Homo sapiens: one gene and its partners. The protein of the gene in region 4 purifies or fractionates together with the protein of the main gene of each other region. This does not show direct contact. Each region holds a gene or a part of one and is shown on either strand. Other genes may lie near its edges.

Region 1 (7,841 bases), on a different chromosome or scaffold from region 4:
TGTGAAACCCCATCTTTATAAAAAATAAAAATAAGCTAGCTAGGCATGGTGGTGCACACTCGTGGTCCCAGCTACTCAGGAGACTGAGGTAGGAGGATTGCTTAAGCCTGAGAGGTCGAGGTTGCGGTGAGCTGTGATCGTGCCACTGTACTCCAGCCTGGGTGACACAGCCTGACCCTGCTTCAGAAAAACAAAGACAAAAAAGAACAAACACCAGAGGTATGTGTCCTGCGGTAAAGTGCAGGGATGGTGGCGGTGGATTTAGATGCGGTGGGAACATCTAAGGAAAACTGGGCTCTGCTGCAGCTCTACTCCCAACAAATTTTGATGATCCTCAGGCAAGACACAAAGACATGCTATAAACTGAAATTTGTTACCATATACTTTTTTTTTTTTTTAAAGACAGTCTCGCTCTGTCACTCAGGTTGGAGTGCACTGGCACGATCTCGGCTCACTGCAACCTCCGCCTCCCAGGTACAAGCGATTCTCCCACCTCAGCCTCCCCAGTAGCTGGGATTACAGGTGTGCGCCACCATGCCCAGCTAATTTTTGAATTATTTATTCCTTTTTTTCTTTTCTTTTCTTTTTTTGAGACAGCGTCTTCCTCTGTTGCCCAGGCTGGAAGGCAGTGGTACAATCTCGGCTCACTGCAACCTCCACCTCCTGGGTTCAAGTGATTCTTCTGCCTCAGCTTCCTGAGTAGCTGGGATTACAGGTGCCCACCACCATGCCCGGCTAATTTTTGTATTTTTAGTAGAGACGGGGTTTCACCATGTTGACCAGGCTGGTCTCAAACTCCTGACCTCAGGTGATCCACCTGTCTCGGCCTCCCAAAGTGCTGGGATTATGAGCCACCATGCCTGGCCTACTTTTTGTATTTTTAGTAGAGACTGGCTTTCACCATGTTGGCCAGGCTGGCCTCGAACTCCTGACCTCAAGAGATCCACCTGCTTCGGCGTCCCAAAGTGCTGGGATTACATGCCTGAGCCACCGTACCTGGCTTGTTACCATATACTTTTATAGCACAGTACTTCACATTGATTAAAGAACTCTCATACTAACTGTGTCATTTAACATACACAACCACCAAGCAAAGGAGACAGGACAAACAGTAGCATCCCATTTCCAAGGCTGAGTGCAGTAATGGAAAAAATAAGAGTTTTTATGAATAAGACAATCTGAGTTCAAATCCCAGGCATCTTGTTCAACTTTTCAGAGGCTTTGTTTCATCCTAAGTAAAGTGTAGACAGTACATACACCTCATGGTCTTTTAGAATGAGTCAAGGATTGAGTACTGCACGTATACAGTACTCAATGTTTCCTTCCATCATTCCACAGAAGGAAGGGCTACAAGTTCACACACCTACTCTGACTTTAAAGCTCCAAGCAGATTATCTTTCAACTCCCATGCTCAACCTTTCCGTGCTCAGATTCAAGAATGTAACTCAGCATCTCTTTAAAAGGTGTTTAAAAGATTAGTCACTGAGATACTCTACTAAAAGTTTTTTGTTCAAGTAGATTTGTGAAATGTCACTCTCTTGAAATCTCACAAAGTGTGTATGTGTGTATATATATGTATGATACCGAAGGTTCTGAGAAGTCTTGCAATAAAGAAATCTATTTGAACTCATTCTAACTAGCATTTCCCAAAAGTGCATTTAATGGAATCCTTTTTTACATAATTACCATAAACATCCACACAGACCTAACTTTCTTTTAAACATACTTTTAGGAAAAATGGTTTTGATAAATTCATGTCTAACAAATTATAATAATAGATTAGATTATAATAGATTAACAATATTAATAACAATAGATATTATTATAGGACAGGGCACAAGAAATTATCCTTTAAACAAGATCCCTAAATCATTCTTTTGCAGCCTGCATTGAAATTGCACATTGCCTAGCGTCAAATTCAGAAAAATTTATTTAGGCAACTAAGACATTTTTATTTTTGGATTTCAGAATAAGTCTGCCACAGACACAAAGATTCCAAGAAGTGGCTCATAATGTCATCTAGCAGAAGACACACTTGGGGAAAAAGGTGGGGGAGGGGTATTATGTTTTGTTGCAAAATTGATTTTGTATGAGGTTTCTTACTCCCCAAATCTACCTTCAGAAAACGGTAGTATCTAATGATCTAATGCCACATCACTACCTCTCCTGTCCTTATCCTTGGTCTCCTGATGACCGCAGAAAGCAAGAGAGAGCCAGAGTGGAACGAGTGAGCTGTTAACTATAAATTACAAAAATGAGGACTCCTTTTTTCTCTGAAAACCAAGAAAGCGGTTACTCTGTCACAATCCAAAAAAAAAGGAAATTAATCAATCATCAGTATTTGTCCTGAAATTTTCCGCAGAGGTCTCTGGTGTGATTAAAAACGTGGGGGAAGGTCAGGCGCGGTGGCTCGCGCCTATAATCCCAGCACTTTGGGAGGCCGACACGGGAGGATTACCTGAGGTCAGACCAGCCTGGTCAACTAAAAATACAAAAATTAGCCGGGCGTGGTGGTGCGCGTCTGTAATCTCAGCTACTCGGAAGGCTGAGGCACCAGAATCGCTTGAACCCCGGAAGCAGAGGTTGCACCACTGTATTCCAGCCTGGGAGACAGAACAAGACTCTGTCTCAAACAAAACAAAACAAAACAAAACAAAACGTGGGGAAGAGGCCGGGTGCCATGGTTCACGCCTGTAATTCCAGCACTTTGGGAGGCTGAGGTGGGTGAATCACTTGAGGTCAGGAGTTTGAGACCAGCCTGGTGAAACCCTCTTCTACTAAAAATATAAAAATTAGCTGGGTGTGGTGGCACATGTCTGTAATCCCAGCTACTGGAGAGGCTGCGACAGAAGAATCGCTTGAAGCTGGGAGGCAGAGGTTGCAGTGAGCTGAGCTCACACCACTGCACTCCAGCCTGGGCAACAGAGCGAGACTCCGCCTCAAAACAAAAACAAAAACCGTGGAGAAAATGCTAAACTCGATTTCTTCTGAACCTATGCTAAGATGTCAAGGTACTGTGATTCTTCTAAAAGAATTTTAAAGGTTGTTATGTTTGGTGTCCTAAAAGTGTACATGGATTTTATATTATAACCTACATCAAGAAACTCATTCAGGCCAGGCGCCTTGGCTCATGCCTGTAATCTCAGCACTTTGGGAGGCCAAGAATTCCAGACTAGCCTGGGCAATATGGCGAAACCCCGTCTCTACAAAAAATACAAAAATTAGCCAGGCATGGTGGCTCTCCCTTCAGTCCCAACTACTCGAGAGGCTGGGGCAGGAGGATGCCTTAAGCCCAAGGAGGTAGAGGCTGCAGTGAGCTGTGATTGCACCACTCCACTCCACTCCAGCCTGGGAACAGAGTGAGACTCTCAAAGAAAAAAAAAAAAAAGCCTTATTCACAGATAATTTTTTTTAAAAATGGAAACTAAAATAGAATTTAAAACCCAAGCTGCTCAGTTTCTTGGAAGATGGATTTTTCCTACTTGGTAATATACTTTGTATATCTCGACTATTATTGTGCATGCAAGCACCTCTAAGAAGTACTTGTATCTGCAATGAATTCTTAAACCTCAGGGAGCCAAATAAAAAGACAAGGCCCGAGGAATTCTTTCAAAAATTAAAGTAACATTTCATATTTGCTTATTCTAACAGACAAAGAATAAAGAAGGAATCCGCTAAGTTGCAAGCTGAGGTGCAGACAAGTGCTGGTTCACAGTGACATCCTAGAAGGAATGCTCTGGATAAGAGCTTCAAGCTTCTGTGGTTTTCTGAGGAAAGTGAACGGAATCTAGACGTGTCCTATAGCTCAAAAAATCAGCGCTATGGACCACAGCGCCTAACAGAGTAAAATAATACACTGTGCAGTTTGGCCACTAACAGCAAGAGTGGGAAGGGGCGAAGAGGAACCTTGATTGCCCGACACCAGGGCCACCTGAAAAGTCATCTTGACACTTCAGTCTTTCCATTTTGAGATCGGAAGCTTTAAGGACCATTAAATCGCTGCCGCTGCCACACCAGGCCCGACGGAGCAGAAAGGCTGCGCTCACCTGCGGAAGCGACCGGGTGCACACCTGCCGGGTGGCGAGGCCCGCACCGTCACACCCCGCCCCGGCTTACCTGCCCTTCGGTGATTTTTAGCGTCAACTTCCATCCCTTCCCACCCATCTGGATCCAACCAAGCGCAAGGGCGGGGGAGGGAGAAGCTAGTGTCGCGAGGAAAAGCATCCCCGCAACCCACCGCAGGCTTTCTCTCCTTCCTCCCCATTCCACACAAGAGGCAGCCACACCGCCTCTCCTAACCCTCGTCTCCAATGCAAGGCCTGAAATACTTAGAAAAAATAATAACTGTTTTTAAGGAAAAGTAACATCCCCGCTCCCTTCCGCCCCTCACCTTCACGAAAGCAATCGGGGTTGTGGTACCTTCGATATCTAACAGGATCACGGTGACTTCGGCGGGGACCGAAAGCACGACCATTTCCCTACCGGATGCTACGGGACTCGGCCTGCTGTTGGGGAGGGCGGAGGGCGGCGCCGGCTGCGGCTGCGGCCCCCGGTACCGTCTTGGGCTTCCGGCGGCCCCGCGCGATCTCGGAGCCAGCGACCAAGTGCAGCCCGCCGCGCGTGGGGAGAGGACACTTCTGCACACCTGGAACTGGAAAAGGCGGCCGCCCAGGAGCCCTGAACTCGTGAGCAGGACGGGGCAGGAGCCCGAGACCACGTGGGCAGGAAAAGGGGCGGCCCTTGACGGGTTCGGCGGGGCGGGGAGGGTGAAGGCGCCAGCGCCGATTGGCCGCCGTCAGGCCTCGAACTGGATCCGTCAAAATGGGCCTCGCGTGGGCGGGAACAAAGAAGCGAACGCGGGAGCAGGGTGCGCGAGAGCGCGCCCTCCGCAGACAGGTTGAGCGAGCGGGAGAGGCCCGGGGCACGTGCAGAAAGGAGCCCCGCGAGTGGCGCGCCGGGGATGTGAGTGCCCCTTGCCCTCTACTGAATCCAGCCCCCTCCCCGCCCACCGCCTCCGCCTTTGCATAGATACAGTCATCTGGCCAGCCCCCGCCCCTCCTCCCGGCGTCAGCCCGCCAGAGGCCGCGCGGGGCCCGGGCTTCGGCCGATCAGCCCGGGAGGCCCCGCCGCGCCCCCTTGGCCCGCGCGCCCGTGGTCACAGTGGAAGAGGCGCCCGCGCTGCGCTGCCCGGAGGAGCCGTCGCGCGCCCGCTTCCTGTTCGGCTGGTTCCTGCCAGCTCGAGGACAAAACACGCGTGCGCGCGGCGGGCGAGCGCGCTCGCCGCCTCAGTCGCCAGCGCCGGGCGCAGTCCGCCTTTTTCCGGAGCAGACTGGCCGCGGTGCTAGTCGGTAGCAGCGGCCGCCGCAGCGGCTCCGCACTGGCGAACCGAGGGCAGAAAAAGGCGGGGTTGACGGCTTTTTGGTAGGAGTGGGCTGGACCGGACGCCAGAGACAAAGGCTCCCAAGGCAAGAGGGACTGTGGCCCTGCGTCGGCTCTGCTCGGGACTGCTGACCCCAGGAATTTACGCCCCTTCGTTTTTCTCTTCTGATTCTTCTCTTCTCCCAAGCCCGCGTCCCCTCACGCGTGGCCTCTCTCCTTGCCGGGAGGGCCGCGATGGAGGTCCCGCCCAGGCTTTCCCATGTGCCGCCGCCATTGTTCCCCTCCGCTCCCGCTACTTTAGCCTCCCGCAGCCTCTCCCATTGGCGGCCGCGGCCGCCGCGGCAGCTAGCCCCGCTCCTCCCTTCGCTCGCTCCCAGCTCCGCCCGGCAGGGGGCGCGCCGGGCCCAGCGCCACGTCACCGCCCAGCAGCCCTCCCGATTGGCGGGCGGGGCGGCTATAAAGGGAGGGCGCAGGCGGCGCCCGGATCTCTTCCGCCGCCATTTTAAATCCAGCTCCATACAACGCTCCGCCGCCGCTGCTGCCGCGACCCGGACTGCGCGCCAGCACCCCCCTGCCGACAGCTCCGTCACTATGGAGGATATGAACGAGTACAGCAATATAGAGGAATTCGCAGAGGGATCCAAGATCAACGCGAGCAAGAATCAGCAGGATGACGGGTACCGCACGCTTCTTCCCCCGCTCCCCCTCCCCCAGCGCGCCGCACGCGCCCTTCGTTCCTCGTGAGCCGCGCGCTGCCCCCATTCTTTCTCAGAGTCGATTCCCCGCGTGCCTTCTGGGCCCCACTAGATTGGAGGGAAGAGGAAAGTAAGAGATCGAGGGGGTGACTGGAGAGACCCGGGAAGAGTGGGGGAAGGGCGGAGGGGTTGGAGGAGGAGGGCGGCGGCGTCTGTGTCCCGAGCGCGCAGGCGCCGCGTGGGACCCGGGGGGGAGGGGCCGGCCTCCCAGCGCTGCACGCTGCAGCTGCCGCCGCCTCTTCATTGTGTCTCTGTTACCACTCGGCGCGGTTTTCCTGGGAAGAGTTTTAGAGGACTGAGTTGGGGCACAAGCAGGCGACTGGTACCCAGATTCACAAAACGTGTTATGATTGATGAGTTCTCTGGGTGGAACGTTGGCTTGACAGCTGAGAACGAAGATGGACCTAAGTAAGATAAGATGTGAGGGATTCATCTAGGAAGTTGTGCCTTCTACCTAAAGGAATCTGGGCAGAACCTTTACTGTATTTTATTGGTCTCTTTTGAGCTTTGCTTTATGTAGTGCGGACAGTGAGCTGTCCGCTGGTTTGAGTAACTTCGTTGGGATATTGGGATTTTTGTGTGACATAGATTAAATGTAAACATGAATTAAATTGCCTACACTTAGGGGGTAAATGTCCCTGTTTTTATTTCACGATTTAATTCCAGAACTGAAGGATCATTTGAGTTATTGTTAATTTTTTTTAAAAACACTTTTATTTCTAGTAAAATGTTTATTGGAGGCTTGAGCTGGGATACAAGCAAAAAAGATCTGACAGAGTACTTGTCTCGATTTGGGGAAGTTGTAGACTGCACAATTAAAACAGATCCAGTCACTGGGAGATCAAGAGGATTTGGATTTGTGCTTTTCAAAGATGCTGCTAGTGTTGATAAGGTAGGAACTATGTTTTGCATTGTGCTGCTTTTGTGGTGTTTTGCAAATTTTTCTGGGGGTTATATGGTGCTGTCAGATTAAATAAATCTGTCTTGTAGGTTTTGGAACTGAAAGAACACAAACTGGATGGCAAATTGATAGATCCCAAAAGGGCCAAAGCTTTAAAAGGGAAAGAACCTCCCAAAAAGGTTTTTGTGGGTGGATTGAGCCCGGATACTTCTGAAGAACAAATTAAAGAATATTTTGGAGCCTTTGGAGAGGTGTGTGATTATGTTTACACATGTTAAGCTTGATGTGTTTATAAAATGTTCAATCCTTGTCCGATTTATGCAGGGCAGATTCATGTTTCCTGTAAGAGTAGAATTAAATGACTGCTCAAGTCGCTTCCAGTGACTGTACCTTGATTTCATTGCTGCTCTGATGGAAACCCAACTATCTAATTTAGCTAAAACATGGGCACTTAAATGTGGTCAGTGTTTGGACTTGTTAACTAGTGGCATCTTTGGGTACAAAATAATATTAATTTCTCTCAATGCTTCAAATATACAACAAATCACTGTAGGCTGATGTTGATCATAAAGCAGTGATGTCTGTATAGAAGTCACCCGATAAGAATAACATGTTTAAGTTGAAGCCTGAAAAGGCCTTTGGCATTCTGACACTGTAACGTTTTACAATTATGGGATGACGTTGAGTGTGCATCTCGATTTCAGATTGAAAATATTGAACTTCCCATGGATACAAAAACAAATGAAAGAAGAGGATTTTGTTTTATCACATATACTGATGAAGAGCCAGTAAAAAAATTGTTAGAA
Region 2 (7,362 bases), on a different chromosome or scaffold from region 4:
ATCTGTAAGTAACAAAGAAATAGCTGTATGAGGACACTCCAGACATAATGGTACATATATATACTAAAGTAAAAGCGAGAAGTTGGAAGTGGTTGTTTCTAAGGATAAAAAAGGAACAATACCGCAGATGACACATGACCCATATTATAGTCCAGGTATAGGCAAACATTTTCTGTAAAGGGCCAGGAAAGTTAAGCAGTTTAGGCTTGTGAACCATATGGCCTCTGCCACAACTCCTGGGCGGTGCTATTTTAAGACAAAAGCAGTCATGTAGACTGAATGTAAACAAATGAGCCTGGTTTTGATCATGGACACTAAAATTTAAACTTCATATAATTTTCATGTATCACAAAATATTATTCTTCTAGATTTTTTTTTTGTAGCCACTTAAAAATATAGCTCTTGGGATGCACAAAAACAAGCAGGGGGCTTGATGTGGCTTGTGGGCTGTCATCTGTCAACTCTTGTTATAGTCTATACCAAAAAGCACGGTCCATTTAGAAACAGAATTTGCTAATATACTCCTTTATTGTCCAGCAAGTACTTGATCATCATTTAAAAATTCTTACCTGGCGGCATAAGTTTCATAAGTACTCTTGCTCCATCTCTAAGGGGTGGCATATTTAGGCTGCTACCTAAGTCTGCAACTTGCCAAAGAAAAGAGATGTATCTGGGATGCAGTGACATTATCTAGAATATAAAATACACAAAATAATTACCTCTAAATTATTTACTCCCGTTTTATAAAAGCCCAAGTAAGTTTCTCTGTGTTAATCCCTATACTTTTACTTATGAAATTTCTACTCTTTGAAATAGTCTGACTTTCCCATCTTTTAATCCCTACAAATCCTTAATAGTGCAGATCAAATACATCATCAAGTCACTTCCAGTCATTTTTTTGTGATAGCTCCTCTCCTGTTCTATTAAACCATTTCTCTCATATATACAATTTAGACTCTGGACATAACAAAAGGCTGCCATGCCCACTACCAAATTCTTAATCCAGTTGTTATAGAGAGCCAAATCCTCCTGACACTGGAGTGGCTGCTACTATTGTAACCATTAAAATTTCTGTCGGGAGGGGCGAAAGGAGAGCTTAAAAATATTTCTTTGGCTATATGTTACTGACAATCTGATAAAGATTACAGGTATTTTCCTACATAGTTCTTGTTTTCATTTATTTATATTTTTAGAGATGGGGTCTCACTCTGTTGACCAGGCTAGAGCATAATGGCACAATCGCAGCTCACTGCAGCCTAGAACTCCTGGGCTCAAGCAATCCTCCTGCCTCACAGCCTCCCCAGTAGCTGGAATTACAGGTGTGAGCCACCATGCCCAGCTCATATATAGTTCTAAAAGAACTATCCGTTTTGTGGTATAAATTTTAGAAAGTGATACAGCTGACTCTTGAACAACACAAGTTTGAACTGCACAGGTCCATTTACATGCAGACTTTTTTCCCAATCAAATGTGGACAGAAAATTCAGTATTTCCAGCAAGCAAAACCCAAGTATATGGAAGGCTAACTTTTTGTATATCTGGTTGCACAGGGTCATCTGCAGCATTTTGGGTATATGCAGAGGTCCTGGAACCAATTCTCCACGTATACGAGGGATGACTGTTTTCCTCTAAATTTATACATCCAATAGTGTTATAATTAAGCTCTAATTGGTTAATTTTATGTAAAAGTAACAATACTATACCTATGGGGAAATTATGTTTTAAATTCCAACTGTGTTACAATTACCTTTTAGAGGGATCCATTCTGAAGTTGGTGGTTAACTGTATTTTTTTGTCTCATTAAACTGTAAGCTCCTCAAGAAAAGAAAGAACCACTCTATATACTTTATTCTCAAAAACCCTAGCATGATGCCTTACATACAGTAGTTCAAAACTGTATCTACTCACCACTCCAGGCAAACAGCTTTCCACTTCTGGATTGGGACCATCACTGTAATGATTACCATGGTTTCCAGGAGATCCAGTGGAGGAATCAGAAGAGCTATCAGGGCTTGAAGGCATATTGGAACTTATCTGTGTAAGTTTGGCTGTAATAAGCTGAAAATTATATACTATGTTAATATCAAAAACAAGGAAAAATACTTACACAAAACACAAAACTTAGTGATATACCAACCAAAAAATCCGAAAGACTACATGCTATACTTTAATGCTATAACTCTAACACCTAACACAGTCCCAAACATAACAAATGCTCAATTAGTATTTACTGATTAAACGATAGTCTCTGGTTTGATTTTATTGAAAAATCTGTTAACTATACATACATACCGATTTATCTTTTAAGTTTAATTGTCCAATCAACTTTCTATCATCTGCAGGATCTATCAGCTCACCGCCCACAAAGAGCTCAATTTTTGTATGGGCTACGTTGGCTTTAATACGATTGAGAATACATCGTCGTACTGAACCAATTGTATCATTTGTATGAGACCATACCTCCAAGTCATCAACCTGTCTGCCCTGGTTTGGAAATCGAACTACAAAAGAGAGGTGTTTACCGCGGAATGCTCTGGGGGGAAAAAGAAAGACAGACATCATCATATTCAGCAGACTCTGAAATTTTGTTGCCAAGAAAATAATGCTGGGGATTTAACACTAAGTATTTTCTTATTAAACAAGAGGATGTGAATTAAAGATACTTAATACAGCTTGAGAATCCCTTATATGAAATGTCTGGGACCAGACAAATTTTGGATTTCTTGGATTAGGGATACTCAACCTGTATTACTTTCAGTATCTTGAAAATAAGGCCAGGCATGGTGCCTCATGCCTATAATCCCAGCACTTTGGGAGGCCGAGGCGGGTGGATCACTTGAGGTCAGTAGTTCGAGATCAGCCTGGCCAACATGGTAAAACTCCATCTCTACTAAAAATACAGAAAATAAGCCAGGCTTGGTGGTGGGCGCCTGTAATCCCAGCTACTTGGGAGGCTGAGGCTGGAGAATCGCTTGAACCTGGGAGGCAAAGGTTGCAGTGATCCGAGACTGCACCACTGCACTCCAGCCTGGGCAACAAGAGTGAAATGCAAAAGAAAAAAAAATATTGCTCCTTTTAACTAAAAATATAAATAATATTTAAAAACATAATCATATTCTATTGTTGTTAGTCTTGTATCTATGGTTGCAGAAAATGAGGTGTCTACTAAAATGAAATTAAATCCAAGATATAACGCTTATTTTTATGCTGTAAAAGCCCAACTCACTAAGACTATTTTTAAATGTAAAAGGTTGGCTGGACGCAGTGGCTCATGCCTGTAATCCTACCACTTTGGGAGGCCAAGCAAAGAAGATCCCTTGAGCCCAGGAGTTCAAGACCAGCCTCGACAACATAGGTAGACCTTGTATTAATAAAAAAAAAAATTCAAAAAAAGAAGGTAGAGTTTACCTTTTACATTTAAAAGGTCGTTTTACATTTTGTTAAAAGCATCAACAAAAATGCCACAATGCACTTTATTTTTTTTCTGGAAAAAAGCCTTCATATCAAAATTCACTCCAAAATGCTATTTATATTGGTATAGTACCTTTTTTAAAGTAAAATACAAAATAAAAATCATATTCAAGAAGCAACTGTATATAATTTCATGATTAATAAACAAAACTCTTTAAAAAAAATGATGGCATTGACTACACAAAACATCCCAAAACTATAAACACCATTTGAAAATATTTGTTATATGCCATGCAAGGCAGCTTTTAAGAGCTCTTTACAGGCCAGGCACTGTAGCTCACGCCTATAATCCCAGCACTTTGGGAGGCCAAAGCAGGAGGATTTGCTTGAGCGTAGGAGTTTGAAACCAGCCTGGGCAATGTAGTGAAACCCCACCTCCACAAAAAGTCAAAAAAAATTAGCCAGGTGTGGTAGCCTGTGCCTGTAGCCCCAGCTACCTGGGAGGCTGAGGTGGAAAGGTCGCTTGAGCCCGCAGTGAGCCATGATTACACCTCGGCATTCCAGCCTGGGTGACAGAATAAGACCTTTTCTCAAAATAAACAAATAAACAAAAACACTTCAACTGCAAAATGCCACTGCAACACTTAATGAGTAATAATGTCAAAGACAAAAAGAAAACTAGAAAACAACTTAAGAATGCCTCACCCAAAAAACCAAAACAAAACCAGATGGGAGAGTGGGGGAGGTTATTAAAAAAAATTAGATGAAATGAAAATGTTTTTAATGGGCAAAGACAACAATTTTCAAACGAGAAAAATTTCTGCTCTCCTTTTACCAAATGGCTAGGAAAATATCAAATAATTAAGAATTAGCACCAATAGATTAGTTATTCACAAACCTCGACATAGGGAGAATTGTTCTTTCCTCATGATAATCACTGTCACATTCATTTATATATTCCCTTAAAACAGTTAATACTCGAACCATTCGAACAGCTTCCTGTCTTGCACAATTAACACTGTCTTTGTCACCATCCAAAACACACAATGTGTCATAGGAAGCCTTCAGACGATCAAAACAAGACTGAATGAAGTCTTCATGGATCACCACCTACAAATATCAGGCCAAATAAACACAGTTAAAATTGCTTTAAAATGTAAAAACCAAATATTAATCCAATTAAAGATGGCAATGGCTGATTTAATTGTAGCACTCAATTAACAACAGTCATATTTAAGTAGAGAATCCATACAATAATAAAATGTATGTTTATTAAAAGGAAGCTAGCATTACATAAGTTAACAAACATAAATTAGTCAAAAGTGAACTTCAGGATTAGGTGTTAGCATCAAAATGAATTCACATAGACTTTCTTTGCCATTTCAACATCTAATAAATAGTTATATTAAAAATAACCCAATCACTTCAAGACAACTAACAAGGCAAGATTCATTTAGATAATATTTTTTCTCTTTTGTATAAGAGAAATGGGGGCCGAAAGAATTATATATGGAAGTTTTAATGCACATCAATCCTCACCTGATTGACTTGTAGTCTTGGACCAAGGTTCGTGTATATCTCTTTGAGGAGATCTATAGCTCTGCTGGCAATATCATCATTACTCTGAATCACGACCTGGTTTCAAAATGATAAAAGTATTCATCCCTTTCAACATATATTTTTGTTGGGCATTTAAATTCAAACCATATCCTCAGTTATCTTAAACACACTATTCAATGATTTAATGGTAAGTTGACTTTGATAATCAAGTAAAATTAAGTGAGAAGCACAGACCAAAAGAAAGGGTAATAAATGCAAAATGAAAGTCTCTGAATAATTTAAGAATGAAAGGTACATTTTTGTAAAAATAAAATACGCTTTGACCACTATTATTTAACCCTATAATTTAATATCTTGATAACCAAGTGAGACACTCAAGAAGAAATTCAAATTAGTTGACAGGAAATAAGAGATTACATGAAACACAGTTTAGCATAAAGGACTACTCTACCCCCAGTTTCTATAAATCTTTATCACTCATCTAATTACATTAGTGGTTTCCAAACTATGTTCAGAACCCTAGGGGACTTTGAGGAAGTGTTTCAGTGTTGGCCCCTATAAAAGGGTTGGGGAGGGGAAAGGGGATAAGCATGGGGAGACCAAGTAAGAAAACATATTTTCCTTGTTCAATTCAGTTTACTTTTGTAGTGTGGTGCAAATTTTGAGTTTTAAGATGTGTTTCTGCTGTTAAAACAATGTTGAAAACCACATACTTAATTAAAAGCTTTTAAATACTCAAATGCCACAATAAACATCTTTATCTATGGTTTGCAGGAAAATATGTGAGACATCCAAACAATATAAACTGCTGTATAACAGGTCAGATTAAAGATAGGCATAATAGAGTAGTACTATAAAAATAGATTAGCCTTAAAAAGATAGTATTTTATTCCCCCAGGTATTTAAAAATATCACAAGGTAAACAGTGCCAATAAAGCATATACTCATAATCTATACTAAACACAAGTCCTCTCTTCTGTCCTCTATTTTAGTGTTAAACATTGAAGAGGAGGAAACAGATCGACACTGAATGAAAACTCGGGAAGGAACATTAATATCCACGGGGGAGGAATGAAAGATTTGTATGTTTAGTGCACATCTATGGAATACACAGATACTAAGCTAAGACAAAAGGAACATCAGTGGCAGGAGGAGGGAGAGGAAGAGAGAAGAAAAAGCCCACTGACAGGTGACATAATAAAAATGAACAATTCCTAACTACACCAAATTCCTGAGACAAACATCAGAGTAAAATACACAATTTATATGCAAAATTACAATTCCTTACGTACATGAAAAAGTACATCAGACACCATTTACAGAGTTCCTACTTTTGACTTACCCTCCAAAGGTAATCTAATCCTATTAACTCCAAGTCATCCATCATATAGGCTCTCCTTTTTGCTACTAGTTTTCCTTCTCGACAATTCACAGCTTTGAAGAATCGCTCAAAACACTTCATTCCATTTTCAGTTAACAGAGAAGGATCAAGCTGAAGCACATTACTTTCAAAGAAGTCCTTATTAATATCAGGATCTAAGTCTGGTTCATCCCCCATCAACTTGGAATACCACTTAAAACAGGCTTCACGATCACAAAGGTAAACTGCATTCTCAGCTAAGCATTTCCATATTTGTTTTGCCTGAGGAGCACATAGCCACAGCTGACCATCCTTCAATAAAAATCTTGAAAAAACATTGAAAATTGGCAATTAGATTTATGTAATTTTTATCCGGAAAGGCAATCTGTATTACCTATAAAATACATTTATCACCATTATATTTTAACTATAGATAAAAAGATATTCATTCTTTCAAAATAACCTATTTCTCTACTTTTATCTGGTACTAAAAAAAAATCCCCACTAGATATTAATTAATTCAACAAGCACACACTGAACACCCACTTTGTGCCTGAAATGCAGCTAGCTGAATTAGGAATAAAAGATTCATTCCATGAACCTTTAGTTTTTGAAACCAGACTTTTGGAAAGAAGCATGTTTAGTAGCTTGAGTTAAAAATAAAAGACTTAGGCTGGGCACAGTAACTCACGCCTGTAATGCCAGCACTTTGGGAGGCTGAGGTGGGCGGATCACCTGAGGTCAGGAGTTTGTGACCAGCCTGGCCAACATGGCAAAACCCCATCTTGACTAAAAATATAAAAATTAGCCGGGTGTGGTGGCTCATGTCTGTAGTCCCAGCTACTGGGGAAACTGAGGCATGAGAATCAATTGAACCCGGGAGGCGGAGGTTGCAGTGAGCCAAGACTGTGCCGCTGCACTCCAATTAAAGATGGCAATGGCTAATTTAATTGTAGCACTCAATTAACAACAGTCATATTTAAGTAGAGAATCCTGGGTGAGACCCTGTCTCCAACAACAACAACCAGAAA
Region 3 (8,174 bases), on a different chromosome or scaffold from region 4:
AAAAGAACAAACAGAATGACAAAAACAACTAATAGGACTAATAAGAGAGTTCAGCAGCCAGGCGTGGTGGCTCACACCTGTAATCCCTGCACTTTGGGAGGCTGAGGCGGATGGATCACCTGAGGTCAGGAGTTCGAGATCAGCATGGCCAACATGAGGAAACCCCATCTCTACTAAAAATACAAAAAATTAGCTGGGCGTGGTGGCACGTGCCTGTAATCCCAGCTACTCAGGAGGCTGAGGCAGGAGAATCACTTGGAACCCGGGAGGTGGAGTTTGCAGTGAGCCGAGATCGCACCACTGCACTCCAGCCTTGGCAACAATAGTAAAACTCCATCTTAAAAAAAAAAAAAGGGGTTCAGCAAGGTTTCCCAATACAAAATCAACATCAACCTGTAAAAATCAAAAGCATTTCTGTATAGCAGCAATAACCAACAAAAAAAAAAAGTAGGAATGAATTTAATACAAGAGACCTCTATTTTAAAGAATTTAAACTCTAACAATAGAAATTGATCTGAATAAAAGAGAGACATTTTATGCTCTTTGCTGGAAAGATTTTGGTAATATATAAGTTATTTTTAACAAATTATCCCAAAACTTAGTGGCTAAAACAATACACATTTATTATTTCACATGGTTTTGGAGAGTCAGGATTCTGAGAGTGGCTTAACTGGGTGGTTCTGACTCAGAGCCTCTCATGAGGCTACAATCAGGATGTTGGCCAGGACTGCAGTTATCTGAAGGCTGGGATCCACCTTTAAGAAGGCTTGCTCACATGGCTGTTGGCAAGAGGCCTTACTTTCTTGCCACCTAGATCCCTCCATAGGGCTGCTCATGACATACCAGCTAATGTCCCACATAATGAGCAGTCTGTGTGACAGAGAGCATGAAGCAGATGTGCCTTTTACAGCCTGGTCTTGGAAATGACACACTATCACTTCCACCTCATTCTGTGCTTTACAATTGAGTCACTAAGTCCAGCACACATGCAAGTGGAAGGAAGTTAGGCTCCAACTCTTGACGAGTACAGTATCAGAGTGTGACCATATCTTAAAACCTCCACAGTTAATATTATTAAGATGTTATTTTGGCCGGGCATGGTGGCTCACACCTGTAATCCCAGCACTTTGGGAGGCCGAGGTGGGTGGATCACCTGAGGTCAGGAGTTTGAGACCAGCCTGACCAACATAGACAAACCCCGTCTCTGCTAAAAATACAAAATTAGCCGAGCATAATGGTGGGTGCCTGTAGTTCCAGCTACCCAGGAGGCTGAAGCAGGAGAATTGCTTGAACCCGGGAGGCGGAGGTTGCAGTGAGCCGAGATTGCACCATTTTACTCCAGCCTGGGCAACAAGAGCGAAACTCCATCTCAAAAAAAAAGACGTTATTTCTCCCAAAATGTAAAAATTCAATGCACTCTCAATAACACTTCCATTACTTTTTTTTTTAATGTTTTGAAACAGGGTCTCACTTTGTTGCCCAGGCTGGAGTGCAGTGGCACGATCATAGCTCACTGCAGACTCCAACTCCTGGGTTCAAGCGATCCTCCTGCCTCAGCCTCCCAGGTAGCTGGGATTTGGGCGAGAGCCACCATGCCTGACCTCATTACTTCTTTTTGTTAGAACTGCAATACACTTACATTAGAATTTAGAATAGTAATGAATCATGGACAGTTAAGACAGCCTTCAAAGAAAGCGTTATGATGGGGATTTGCCCACTAGATATTAAGACATATTAAAGGTGTTAGTAATAAAAGGGAAAAAAAAAACAACAACAAACCTATATTGGCCCAAGAGCTAAGAAGTAGACCAATTAGAAGAGAAGGCCGGGCACGGTGGCTCACACCTGTAATACCAGCACTTTTGGAGGCCGAGGTGGGCAGATCACAAGGTCAGGAGATCCAGACCACGGTGAAACCCCGCCTCTACTAAAAAATACAAAAAAAAAAAATTGGCTGGGTGCGGTAGCAGGCGCCTGTAGTCCCAGCTACTCGGGAGGCTGAGGCGTGAACCTGGAAGGCAGAGCTTACAGTGAGCCGAGATCGCGCCACTGCACTCCAGCCTGAGCGACAGAGCGAGACTCCGTCTCAAAAAAAAAGACCATCCTGGCCAACATGGTGAAACCCCATCTCTACTAAAAATACAAAAATTAGCTGGGCGTGGTTGCACGCGCCTGTAGTCCCAGCTACTCAGGAGGCTGAGGCAGGAAAATCACTTGAACCCAGGAGGCGGAGGTTGCAGTGAGCCAAGATCGCGCCACTGCACTCCAGCCTGGCGACAGAGTGAGACTCTGTCAAAAAAAAAAAAAAAGCTCAGAAGTCAGGTACAATAGTGCTCCCCTGTAATCCCAGTTACTCAGGAGGCTGAGTTGGGGAGAATGCTTGAGGCCAGGAGTCAGCCTGGGCTCATCTCTTAAAAACAACAATAACAACAAAACCAGCAACAAACCACCTCAGAGACAGACCCATATATCTATGGAACTTGATACATGATAGAGGTGGTAAAACACACACAGGGATGGGACAGATTGCTTAATAGATGGTGATGGGGCATCTGGCTCATGACACAGAGAAAAATAAAATTGGAGCTCTATCTCACACCATATACAAGGACGAACTCTACATGGATTAAAGACCTAAATGTGGCCGGGTGCGGTGGCTCATGCCTGTAATCCCAGCACTTTGGGAGGCCGAGGCAGGCGAATCACTTGAGGCCAGGAGTTCAAGACCAGCCTGGCCAACATGGCAAAAACCTGTCTCTACTAAAAATGCAAAAATTAGCCAGGTGTGGTGGCACACACCTGTAATCCTAGCTACGCAGCAGGCTGAGGCAGGAGAATTGCTTGAACCCAGGAGGCGGAGGTTGCAGTGAGCCGAGATAGTGCCATTGCACTCCAGCCTGGGCAACAAGAGCGAAACTCTGTCAAAAAAAAAAAAAAAGAAAGAAAGAAAGAAACTGTAGGGGAACATTTTGTGACCTGGGAAAGAGAATGATTTCTTTAAAAGCACAGACCAGGCCGGGCGTGGTGGCTCACGCCTGTAATCCCAGCACTTTGGGAGGCCGAGGCAGGCGGATCATGAAGTCAGGAGTTTGAGAACAGCCTGAACAACATGGTGAAACCTCATCTCTACTAAAAATACAAAAATTAGCTGGGCATAGTGGCACATGCCCGTAATCCCAGCTACTCAGGAGACTAAAGCAGGAGAATCACTTGAACCTGGGAGGCGGAGGTTGCAGTGAGCTGAGATCATGCCACTGCACTCCAGCCTGAGCGACAGAGTGAGACTCCGTCTCAGAAAAAAGCACAGAACATAGGGGGAAAAATGATTATATCAAAATTATGGATCTTTATTCAACTAAGTTTACTGCTTACAAAGTTAATAACACAAATGCCAGAGCTGGAGAGGCTATTTCCAACACCTAAGGGATTAATAATTAGACTATGTGAGGAATCCCTGACAATAACAGGAAGATAAATATGGGAATTACCCCAACAGGAATATGGATGTACTGTATTCTGTATGTTAGCAAATTTGGTCTGTGTTGGGCAAATTCATTCTATGGATAAGAAATTTAGCCTCTGAGGGCAAACTAACTTATTCTTCGTTGATGTGGCGCTCAGAAGTGAAAAATCTGTCAAATCCATTTATTGTAAAGGTGGCCAAGACACTGAAGACTAAATTGTGAACAGTGGGCTCAGACACTACTTGATTGGGATAAGTCTATTGTGTATTGCGAAAGTCCCTTCTGTGAATCAAGGGCTCAGTTACTTTTTTTTTTTTTTTGAGACTGAGTCTTGCTCTGTCGCCCAAGCTGGAGTGCAGTGGCATGATCTCAGCTCACTGCAACCTCCACCTCCCGGGTTCAAGCGATTATCCCGCCTCAGCCTCCTGAGTAGCTGGGACTACAGGTGCCTACCACCACGCCCGGCTAATTTTTTTTTTTTTTTGTATTGTTAGTAGAGACAGGGTTTCACCATATTGGCCAGGGTAGTCTTGAACTCCTGACCTTGTGATCTGCCCACTTCGGCCTCCCAAAGTGCTGGGATTACAGGCATGAGCCACTGCGCCCGGCAAGGGCTCAGTTACTTTCGAAGAGAGCAAAAATTGCTCTATGGATTGGGATTTACAACCTCTGAAGATCGTAGCATCCTCTTTTGTTTTGTTTTGTTTTCACCCAGGCTGGAGTGCAATGGCGTGGTCTCGGCTCACTGCAACCTCCGCCTCCCGGGTTCAAGCGATTTTCCAGCCTCAGCCTCCCGAGTAGGTGGGACTACAGGCACGTGCCACCACACCCAGCTAATTTTTTTTTTCTTTTTTTTTTTTTTTTTTTTTTTTTGTATTTTTAGTAGAGATGGGGTTTCACCATGTTGGCCATGCAGGTCTCGAACTCCTGAACTCGTGAACCGCCCGCTTTGGCCTCCCAAAGTGCTGGGAATACAGGCGTGAGCCACCGCGCCCGGCCAGCATCCTGTTTTGTAAAAGCCATCTCAGGCAGTCTATTGGTGAGAAAATTAAGGGGCTGGCTTCACGCCAGCAGTCAGACAAGGGTGAGGGCTGAAGTCAGAGATGAGATGGAATGACGCCAGGGAAAAGGGTCCCATGACAGGCGGCTAGATGTTGAGCACAGAGGAGAAAGAGTAGGAGTCAGGGTCAAACCTTAAAACGTTGGGTCTGACATCATGGACTGTGAAGGGTGATGACATCAGTGACGGTGGGGGATAAAATGTCAGGCCTTTAAAGGGTATGAGGTTAAAGAACTAGAAGGTGAAGGAGGTTAACATCAGAGAATGGCAGGGACCTAGAGGAAGACGACTACGATGGTGAGGAAGACATCCGATCCAGCGGGGGAAATGATGGCAAGGACGGGAGGATGATGTCAGGGACAGCAAGTAGTATGAGATTGAGAAGGTTCCTTTGTGGAAGGGATAAAGGCAGCTCAGCCGGTTGTGGGGGGGATGCTGACGTTTAGGGTGCACCAGCTGTTCAAAAGTCGACCCCATTTCCGGAAACACCCCATTTCCGGAAACACCCCATTTCGCGGAGAACACTGCTCCCTTCGCTTTGCTGTCCCTTCCTCTCCCCACCACTCCGCTCCTGCTGGCCTCAGCCAATCAGCACGCACGCCGGGACGCGCAAGGGGAACGTTCCGGGACGTTCTCGCTACGTACTCTTTATCAATCGTCTTCCGGCGCAGCCCCGTCCCTGTTTTTTGTGCTCCTCCGAGCTCGCTGTTCGTCCGGGTTTTTTACGTTTTAATTTCCAGGTAAGTTGCATATGTCCTGCGAAACGGCGGCTCCTCGCCACACACGCGCCGCGCCGGCCGTGACCGGGGAATAGCGAGTGGGGAGAGTAATGGCCACTGACACGTAGGCTTGGCTTTCTCTGGGACGGGCGGGTCCCGTGCTTGGAGGTGAAACATTTCGGTTGGTGGGAGGCCGGCGCGCTGTATCTGAGTGTGAGGCCTACCGGGAGGGACTGGTGGCGTCGGTGGTGGCAGTGACCACGCGACAGCCGACACTTACTTTCCTTATCCCACGTGGCCGCCGCCATCTTGTTCTGCCGGCGTTAAGGGAACGCAGGGATGTTCTGGGCTTGCGCAGTGGCACAAAATGACGGGCGTGGCGGCTATGAATGTGAGAGCATGCGCAATGTGGCCCCCTAATGGTGGCTGCGCTGAGCCAGCTCCTCAGATTACCACCTTATTGGCCGCCTTTCTCAGCTTTTCTGTAGTTACCCATATTTTGTTCCTCTTTCTTGTCTATTTTCTGTGCTTTTTCTCTGCTTTCCGTCTCGCTATTTTCTCACATCTCCATTTTCTTTCTCCTTCCTGCCACCATTCTTCATGTTCTTCCCACAGGACTTGAACTGCCATGTCCTCTGAAGAAGGAAAGCTCTTCGTGGGAGGGCTCAACTTTAACACCGACGAGCAGGCACTGGAAGACCACTTCAGCAGTTTCGGACCTATCTCTGAGGGTGAGACGGGCCATACTCACAATGGGGGTTGGTGAGAGAAAGTCTGGGATCCTTGCATTTCAAGGAGTATTAACTGAAAAGTTAGGACCCACGCCTCCAAATTCTTTTTCTTCCTAAGCCTATGGTGTAGACTAAGGATGAGGGGAAGCGTCTTTGGGATTAGTGGGAGCGCTCCGTTTTCCCTACCTATGCCATCTCCTTTTCCGGCCACCCTTTGCTACTTAACCTTTGGGGTACTGACTGGTCCACATTGCTCCATCTTCTCTCCCTCTCACAGTGGTCGTTGTCAAGGACCGGGAGACTCAGCGGTCCAGGGGTTTTGGTTTCATCACCTTCACCAACCCAGAGCATGCTTCAGTTGCCATGAGAGCCATGAACGGAGAGGTGGGGCCTCCTATCTGCAGAGGGACCTTGTCCCCATCTGCGGCTTCCTTCATTCTTTTTGTTTTTCCCTCTGTGTCTGCTCGGGGCAGCGTGGCCACCAAGCCCCGCAGTGCCCACTCACAGGAGCATGACTGCCTTTTGTTCTAGGGGGTGGAGGGCAGCGGCAGACAGAGCCTGGCCGCCTGGGAGGCGACGACTGGTCCTGCATGAGGCCGAGAAGCCACCTGTGGATGGTTGACCTGCCTTGGGCTTAGGTAGTAGAGTCTGCAGACCTGTGGGCCTGGCCCGGAGAGGACCTCGTGAGTCTTCTGACATGGACTCTGAAGCCTCAAACCAAGAGAGGTGTCTGTCTAGCCCTGATAGTCGGGCAGCTTAGAGGAGTGGGGAGGAGAACTCAGCCTGAGTTCAGTCAAGATGTAAGTAGTAGCAAGGGGAACATGGTGCATTCAGGTCATTTTGTGTGGGATTCTATAGCTCCTGATGAAGCCATTCTGGGGTAAAGGAGCTTATTCTGGAACATGGCACCCAGAACCTGGTGCCCAGCAGGAATTTTTGGCCTCTTTTGCCCACTTACCCTTGCCTGCTCTTCCCTCACCATTGCCCTGACTGACTGCCAACCCATCATCCTTGTGTCTCCCACACTTAGTCTCTGGATGGTCGTCAGATCCGTGTGGATCATGCAGGCAAGTCTGCTCGGGGAACCAGAGGAGGTGGCTTTGGGGCCCATGGGCGTGGTCGCAGCTACTCTAGAGGTGAGTGCAGTGATCGTTTTGATCATGGGGTGAGAGGGAGAGTTGCCTATGTGTGGACAACTGCCATTTAAATATTTTTCTGCTCTAGGTGGTGGGGACCAGGGCTATGGGAGTGGCAGGTATTATGACAGTCGACCTGGAGGGTATGGATATGGATATGGACGTTCCAGAGACTATAATGGCAGGTGGGTAGCCAAAGGGCTGGGATGTTCTCCTATTGCTTCCCTCTCCTTAAGAACTCAGCGCCTGGGTGTTCATGCATACCACACCTTGCTGTTACTAATGTGTACCTAAAATGAGTATGAAATTTAGCATTTTAAGTTAATTGTGTAGTCATATAGTTGCGACATGGTAAAGTATACTATATATGTTGTGCTGTGTGGGTTATATAACTATATTGCTTTAACATGTAATATGATTTAATATACTGCGTATAAATCGTATGCCATAAAACTGTTTACTGTGATACTCATATGCTTAACATATCCTGTTTTTGATACGTAAGGTTTATGTTATGACCCATACTGTAAAATGTGACGCATATAATTACAGTGGTATATATAATGCAGTACCAGAAAACTTTTGTGTGTTTTTTTTCCCCCCCAGAAACCAGGGTGGTTATGACCGCTACTCAGGAGGAAATTACAGAGACAATTATGACAACTGAAATGAGACATGCACATAATATAGGTGAGACTTGGATATCGGCATTGAGTGAACCTGTTTGTCACACTCTGTCATGACCCTCTCACCTTTTCTGGCAAGACTGCTCTGCATTTCTGCTGCCCTCATACCTCACCCAGCCAACCTACCAAACATTCCTAGCTAGGCCTTCCTTGCTCTCAGGTGCATATCAGAGCAAGTTTGCTAGGGGGTGGGATCTGAAAACCCATCTCCTATAATCTTCTACTCTTGTGTGGGATGGAGGAAATGAAGGTGTGTCCCTGTTGTCCAACCCTCAGCATCTTCATCAGCTCTAGGAGGTGAGCATGTTGTCAGCTGTTACTTCATGACATCACAATTCTCCCCCTCTTGCTGTTCCCAGATACACAAGGAATAATTTC
Region 4 (5,572 bases):
AACTTCGTTGAACAAGTGTAGGCTGGCCTTTGGACAAGGGAAGACCACCCTACCTAAAACAGCCCTTCCCTGCCACTCAGCATCACTCTTTCCTTATTCTTTCTAGCATTCATCTCTAAAATTACACCCATTCATCTCACAAAGAATGATTTTGCTTCTGCTATATTCCAGATACTGTGGATGCAGTAGTGAAATAGACTACAATCTCTGCCCTCACCGATCTGACAGGATTTATTTGTTAACCTGTTCCTGTCTCTCCTACCAAATATGAGATCCATGAGGGTAGAAGATTGTCAGTCTTGCTTACTGCATATTTCCAGCACCTAAATAGCCTCTGGTATATGGGTACAACAGACAGCAATGTTTGTCAAAGAACTGCATCCATGACATCCTCAGCATGGCATAGGAAACTGGTCAAACAATTCACCAAAGTGATTTTATTCCCATGCAGAGTTCCTTATAGTGCACTGTCTTAGTACTATTCTACAAATGGCCATTATATAAAGACTTAAATTAAACCTCCATGATATCCTAGTATTTTCTAAATGTTGAAAAAAAAAAAAACAAGTTTAGTCATCAAGAGAGATTTTTCTGTGCAAAAAAAGAAAAAACAAACAAACACACACACAAACACACACACACACCAAAAATCCCCCAGTACCAGATAGCCACAATACTAGAGGAGGGAGTAAATGCATATGAGGAAAAAGGATTCAAAATAAATTTTTATTTGCAAAATTAAATAAAAAAAAAAAAACAGGAACAGAAAACTAGTCCGAATCAGGTTCCTTCTTCTTTCTTCTCGTCCCTTTTGGATGAGTCCCAGACTCTGTTTTTTCTTTGTTGTGTTCAGTTTGTTGTGTCATCCACTCTTTTTCTAGCTGTTTCAGCATGTCTGGAGTGAGGAGTCCTTGCTGCACCAATCTGGAAGCAAGGGACAGCTCTCCTGCATCGGGGCTGGGTGGCTCAGTAGCTTTACTCCCTAGAGCTTTGGTGCCGCGTGTCCTTCTAGCTTGGCTCTTTAAGGTTCCTGACAATCGTGACTGGCTCCCTGATGGAAAGCCCTCCAAATTCAACAGCTTATGCGTCTCAGACATTTTAATCAATTTAGTGATATTGTGCACACCATCTTGGATAATACCATCTAGTTCTTTCTGGAGATCTCGAATAAGGCTGGCATCTGGAAACATATCCATAAATCGGTAGCTGGGAAAAAGACACATTAGCATTATAGCAACAGCTCTTATCGCAGTCACTGGACAACTCTCAATGGCACACCTACATCATGACATTGATAAATTCTAAATGTTCTTTTTGCAAACTCTCTTCAGTGCCTTTGCTCAACCTTGATTTCTGCCCCCACATATCGGAGGAATATGTCATCCTGAGGGTGGGTCAGCACTATACCTCAATAGACTCTGATATACTCCTGGAGAGGGACATGCCCCTCCTTTGAGAATCACTGGCCTAGAACAGGACTTCTCAAATGATAATGTACAAGTGAATCACCCAGGGATCTTGTTAAAATGCAGAATCTGATCAAGTCAGGCATGGGCCTGATACTCCTTAGTTCTAACAAGCTCCCAGGTGATACCAATGCTTTTGGTCCAAGGACCATCCTTTGACCAGCAGGAGTCCAGTGGACCTTCCTTCTCACCTAGCCATCTTAACTAGAATTGCAAGAACTCAAGTCATTTTTGGAATGGGAAACCATTCCATCAGTTGAATTGCCTTTATGGACAATAGACATAATATAGAGCATCTTGCAAATATGTCCATAATTTGAAATAGAAAAACAAATTCATAAAACCTTTAATTTGTCCTACTAGAAAAATGAGAGCACATAAAGGAAAAATGTTGGTACCTTAGCCACAAGTAAAGATCCAAGACATCGTGGACAGCTTCAAGATCCATGAGGTCTTTAATATTCTTAGGTGGAAGTAAAGGCCATTTGATGTATCGGCGTAACCATGCAAAGGTCAGGGGCTCATTCCTGCTATACTGCCTGGCAAACTGAGAGAGAAAGAGGAAAAGGGTTTCAGAGAAGTGTCAGAATTCCCTTAAGTCTATAATTAGAAAGAGAAAAAAAAGAAAGCAAAACAAAACATTGTGGTTGTATTTCAATAGACAGGTGGTTTCTTTTCTCCTTTATACTCTTCTACATTTTAAAGAACATTTAATACTTTATAAGGCCAGGTACAGTGGCTCACGTCTATAATCCCAGCACTCTGGGAGTCTGAAGCGGGTAGATCACTTGAGCCCAGGAGTTCGAGACCAGCTGGGGCAACATGGAGAAACCCCATCCATACAAAAAACACAAAGAATTAGCTGGGCATGGTGGTGTGTGCCTGTGATTCCATCTACTCCTCAGGAAGCTGAGGTGGAGGATTACTGAGCCCAGGGAGGTCAAGGCTGCAGTGCGCCATGATCGTGCCACTGCACTCCAGCAGTGAGACCATTTGGAGAAAGAAAAAACAAAAAAAGATGATTTCCTTCTTTTTCTAAAACCAGGGTAATAATATGTGCAGCAGAAGTTCAAGGGCTACTCTGGGCACACTACCTATAGGGTATCCCTGCTCCACAAGGAGCAGTTAAAAAAAAAAAGAAGCTGTAGAAGGACTAACTTTCCAGGGCCTAAGTCTGTTAACTCTTATTTAGGAATATGTGATGTTCTAAAGCTATGGACAGACAGTACCTGAAGACTCCTATTTCTATCTCATATGTAATAGTCCTATAACCTCAAATACGAGCTTAAGTTTCTCTATCTTGTTAATGTCCTCCCTTATTTTTTATTTTTTTGAGACGGAGTCTCGCTCTGTTACCCAGGCTGGAGTGCAATGGCACGATCTTGGCTCACTGCAACCTCCGCCTCCTGGGTTCAAGTGATTCTCCTGCCTCAACCTCCTGAGTAGCTGGGATTACAGGCGCCCGCCACAACACCCAGCTAATTTTTGTATTTTTAGTGCAGACGGGGTTTCATCATGTTGGTCAGGCTGGTCTCAAACTCCCGACCTTGTGATCCACCCGCCTCGGCCTCCCAAAGTGCTGGGATTACAGGCGTGAGCCACCGCACCTGGCTGTCCTCCCTTATTATATAGAAACCCTCTGAGGTGGCCTGGTGCAAGGCTGGTCAGAAGTCAATCTTGGATCTGCCTCCTGCGAGCTGTGTGGCTTTGGCCAAGTCAACACTCTTTGCTTCAGCTTCCTCACTGGTAACGTGAGACATCACAGCCCTGTCTTGAACCACAAGACACTGCTGGGGAATGTGCTTTCAAAACCATGTTGCATCCCAGAATTAGGCAATATTATACATCACCTGTACTACAGAAGATAGACATACAACCACACAGTAAGACCCCTCAAGCAAGAGTTTAAATAAAATCTTCAGCTTCAAGATTCAAGCTGATTTCAAATGATTCATTTCCTGATTAGGGGAAATTATCTCTAAATGCTTAACCTAAGCAAGGTTAATACTTCAGAGAGGAAGAGCAGTTTTAGATCAATTGTAGTTAAATAATGCCACAATTTTGTTAAATTCAGTCTGGTCCACTCTGCTAAGTTTAATAAATGCCAAGTAGGATAGCCATAAAGGGTAGAAATGTGACCACACTACCTGCTAGGCAGGACAGGCCAAGCATGAGTTCTCAAGTTATCTTATAAAGGCAGTGGCTCTATTTTTTTTGGCCACAAACAACTAGTGGAAGCCCAATACATAAAAGAGCTAAGTAAGGAGCTATGCAGAGAGAGCAGGGAGAGATGCCCGCCCATCCATCCATCCATCCATCCATCCATCCAGCAGCTGGCCCTAAAGGAGCTCCATGGAGCACAGCTTCCAAATCACAGTCCTAAGGGGCATCCTAAGTCATTAATGTGATTGAGCTCTTTCATAGTTCAGTAATGACAAAGATCAGGAAAAAAGGAAAAGCCTCTAGATTTCATATTCTAATTTTTAAACAGAAAACACACGGAGCGGCCGGGTGTGGTGGCTCATGCCTGTAATCCCTGCACTTTGGGAGGCCAAGGCGGGTGGATCACTTGAGGTCAGGAGTTTGAGACCAGCCTGGCCAACATGGTGAAACCCCATCTCTACTAAAAATACAAAAAATTAGCCAGGCATGGTGGCGGGCACCTGTAATCCCAGCTACTCGGGAGGCTGAGACAGGAGAATCGCCTGAACCTGGGAGGCGGAGGTTGCAGTGAGCCAAGCTCATACCACTGCACTCCAGCTTGGGCAACAGAGTGAGACTTCATCTCAAAAAGAAAACACACCACGCATCATGGCGCACACCTGTAGTCCTAGCTACTCAGGAGGCTGAGGTGGAAGGATCGCCTGAGCCCAGGAGTTTGGGGTTACAGTGAGCTATGATTGTGCCACTGCACTGCAGCCTGGGCAACATAGTGAGACCTTATCTTAAGAAAACAAGCAACTGTTGACCTGCATGTTCCAGAGACTCCCTACACCTTAGTAAAGAGCTTCTATTCACTAGAATAGCTGTTTAAAGGATGGTGTGAATGGTGCCAAGGCCATGGGACTGAGTTCCACTCAGGTCAGTTTACAGCAGTTCAAGACTGTTCCATAAACTTCAACCTTATGCTAGCTAAGTTTTTCACAAATGCCAGCTCTAAGAAACATATTTTCTAGGTAAACATCTGGACATGGAAGATCTCTAACACATATTATTAAGAGAAAAAGAAAAGGCAAGTTGTGAGTAATTCATTAAGATAACGTTGATAGGGCTGGGCACAATGGCTCATGCCTGTAATCCTAGCACTTTGGGAGGCTGAGGCAGGTGGACTGCTTGAGCTCAGGAGTTCGTGACCAGCCTGGGGAACATGGCGAAACCCTGCCTCTACAAAATATACAAAAATTAGCCAGGCATGGCACATGCCTGTAATCCCAGATACTCAGGAGGCTGAGGCACGAGAATCGCTTGAACCCAGGAGGCAGAGGTTGCAGTGAGCTGAGATGACACAACTGTACTCCAGCCTCAGCGACAGAGTGAGACTCTGTCTCAAAAAAAAAAAAAAGATAATTTTTTATGGGGAAATGCACCCTCACAACAAATCTAGTGTTTCCACATGAACATGCACATAGGCAAACGCAATGAAAAACAGTCTGCAAAGATACACACAAACTTACACAAGTAGTTATTTCAGAGGACTAAGATTGGGGAGGGAGCCACATTTAAGCTATCTGTAATGTTCTCATTTTGTATAAAGAGAATGTATGTATTATTTATGTAATTTTTTTTTTAAAGGGCAGAGTCTTGCTATGTTGCTGGAGATGTTCTCGAACTCCTAGGCTTAAGCAATCCTTCCTGCCTCCCAAAGTGCTGGGATTACAGGCATGAGCCACAGCACTGGACTATTTATGTTATTTAAAAAATAAGTTTAGAGCTAGATTTGATTAGAATATAGCTCATATGTAGAATGCTCAGGCCTACAGAGGAAATGGCAGTGAACCTCAGTGAGTCAGGACAAGATTCAGAGAAGAGGAGGCCTTTGGGTTTAGTGGGGTGGGGAGAGCATGCAAAGCAGAGGAAATAGGGCGGGAGGTGAGAGAACATGTTAT

What was found.
Region 1: the proteins of SUPV3L1 (region 4) and HNRNPDL purify together in Homo sapiens (affinity purification with mass spectrometry; 3 studies listed by BioGRID and IntAct, with this or other methods). This does not show direct contact.
Region 2: the proteins of SUPV3L1 (region 4) and USP9X purify together in Homo sapiens (affinity purification with mass spectrometry; 2 studies listed by BioGRID and IntAct, with this or other methods). This does not show direct contact.
Region 3: the proteins of SUPV3L1 (region 4) and RBM3 purify together in Homo sapiens (affinity purification with mass spectrometry; 2 studies listed by BioGRID and IntAct, with this or other methods). This does not show direct contact.

The regions. Positions count from the first base shown.
Region 1 is NC_000004.12:82,427,463-82,435,303, reverse strand, and holds the start of HNRNPDL (heterogeneous nuclear ribonucleoprotein D-like), read left to right. Parts: upstream 1-4,841; 5' UTR 4,842-5,613; coding exon 5,614-6,056; intron 6,057-6,857; coding exon 6,858-7,026; intron 7,027-7,124; coding exon 7,125-7,286; intron 7,287-7,739; coding exon 7,740-7,841. Other genes in the region: ENOPH1 (enolase-phosphatase E1), read right to left, coding at 4,391-4,474. UniProt on the Homo sapiens protein: Acts as a transcriptional regulator. Promotes transcription repression. Promotes transcription activation in differentiated myotubes. Binds to double- and single-stranded DNA sequences. Binds to the transcription suppressor CATR sequence of the COX5B promoter.
Region 2 is NC_000023.11:41,165,166-41,172,527, reverse strand, and holds part of USP9X (ubiquitin carboxyl-terminal hydrolase 9X), read right to left. Parts: intron 6,657-7,362; coding exon 6,314-6,656; intron 5,047-6,313; coding exon 4,951-5,046; intron 4,522-4,950; coding exon 4,310-4,521; intron 2,534-4,309; coding exon 2,293-2,533; intron 2,059-2,292; coding exon 1,909-2,058; intron 691-1,908; coding exon 570-690; intron 1-569.
Region 3 is NC_000023.11:48,569,310-48,577,483, forward strand, and holds the start of RBM3 (RNA-binding protein 3), read left to right. Parts: upstream 1-5,174; 5' UTR 5,175-5,264; intron 5,265-5,858; 5' UTR 5,859-5,871; coding exon 5,872-5,974; intron 5,975-6,251; coding exon 6,252-6,358; intron 6,359-7,004; coding exon 7,005-7,110; intron 7,111-7,198; coding exon 7,199-7,295; intron 7,296-7,716; coding exon 7,717-7,777; 3' UTR 7,778-7,800; intron 7,801-8,155; 3' UTR 8,156-8,174. UniProt on the Homo sapiens protein: Cold-inducible mRNA binding protein that enhances global protein synthesis at both physiological and mild hypothermic temperatures. Reduces the relative abundance of microRNAs, when overexpressed.
Region 4 is NC_000010.11:69,204,234-69,209,805, reverse strand, and holds the end of SUPV3L1 (ATP-dependent RNA helicase SUPV3L1, mitochondrial), read right to left. Parts: intron 2,014-5,572; coding exon 1,865-2,013; intron 1,207-1,864; coding exon 771-1,206; 3' UTR 713-770; downstream 1-712. UniProt on the Homo sapiens protein: Major helicase player in mitochondrial RNA metabolism. Component of the mitochondrial degradosome (mtEXO) complex, that degrades 3' overhang double-stranded RNA with a 3'-to-5' directionality in an ATP-dependent manner.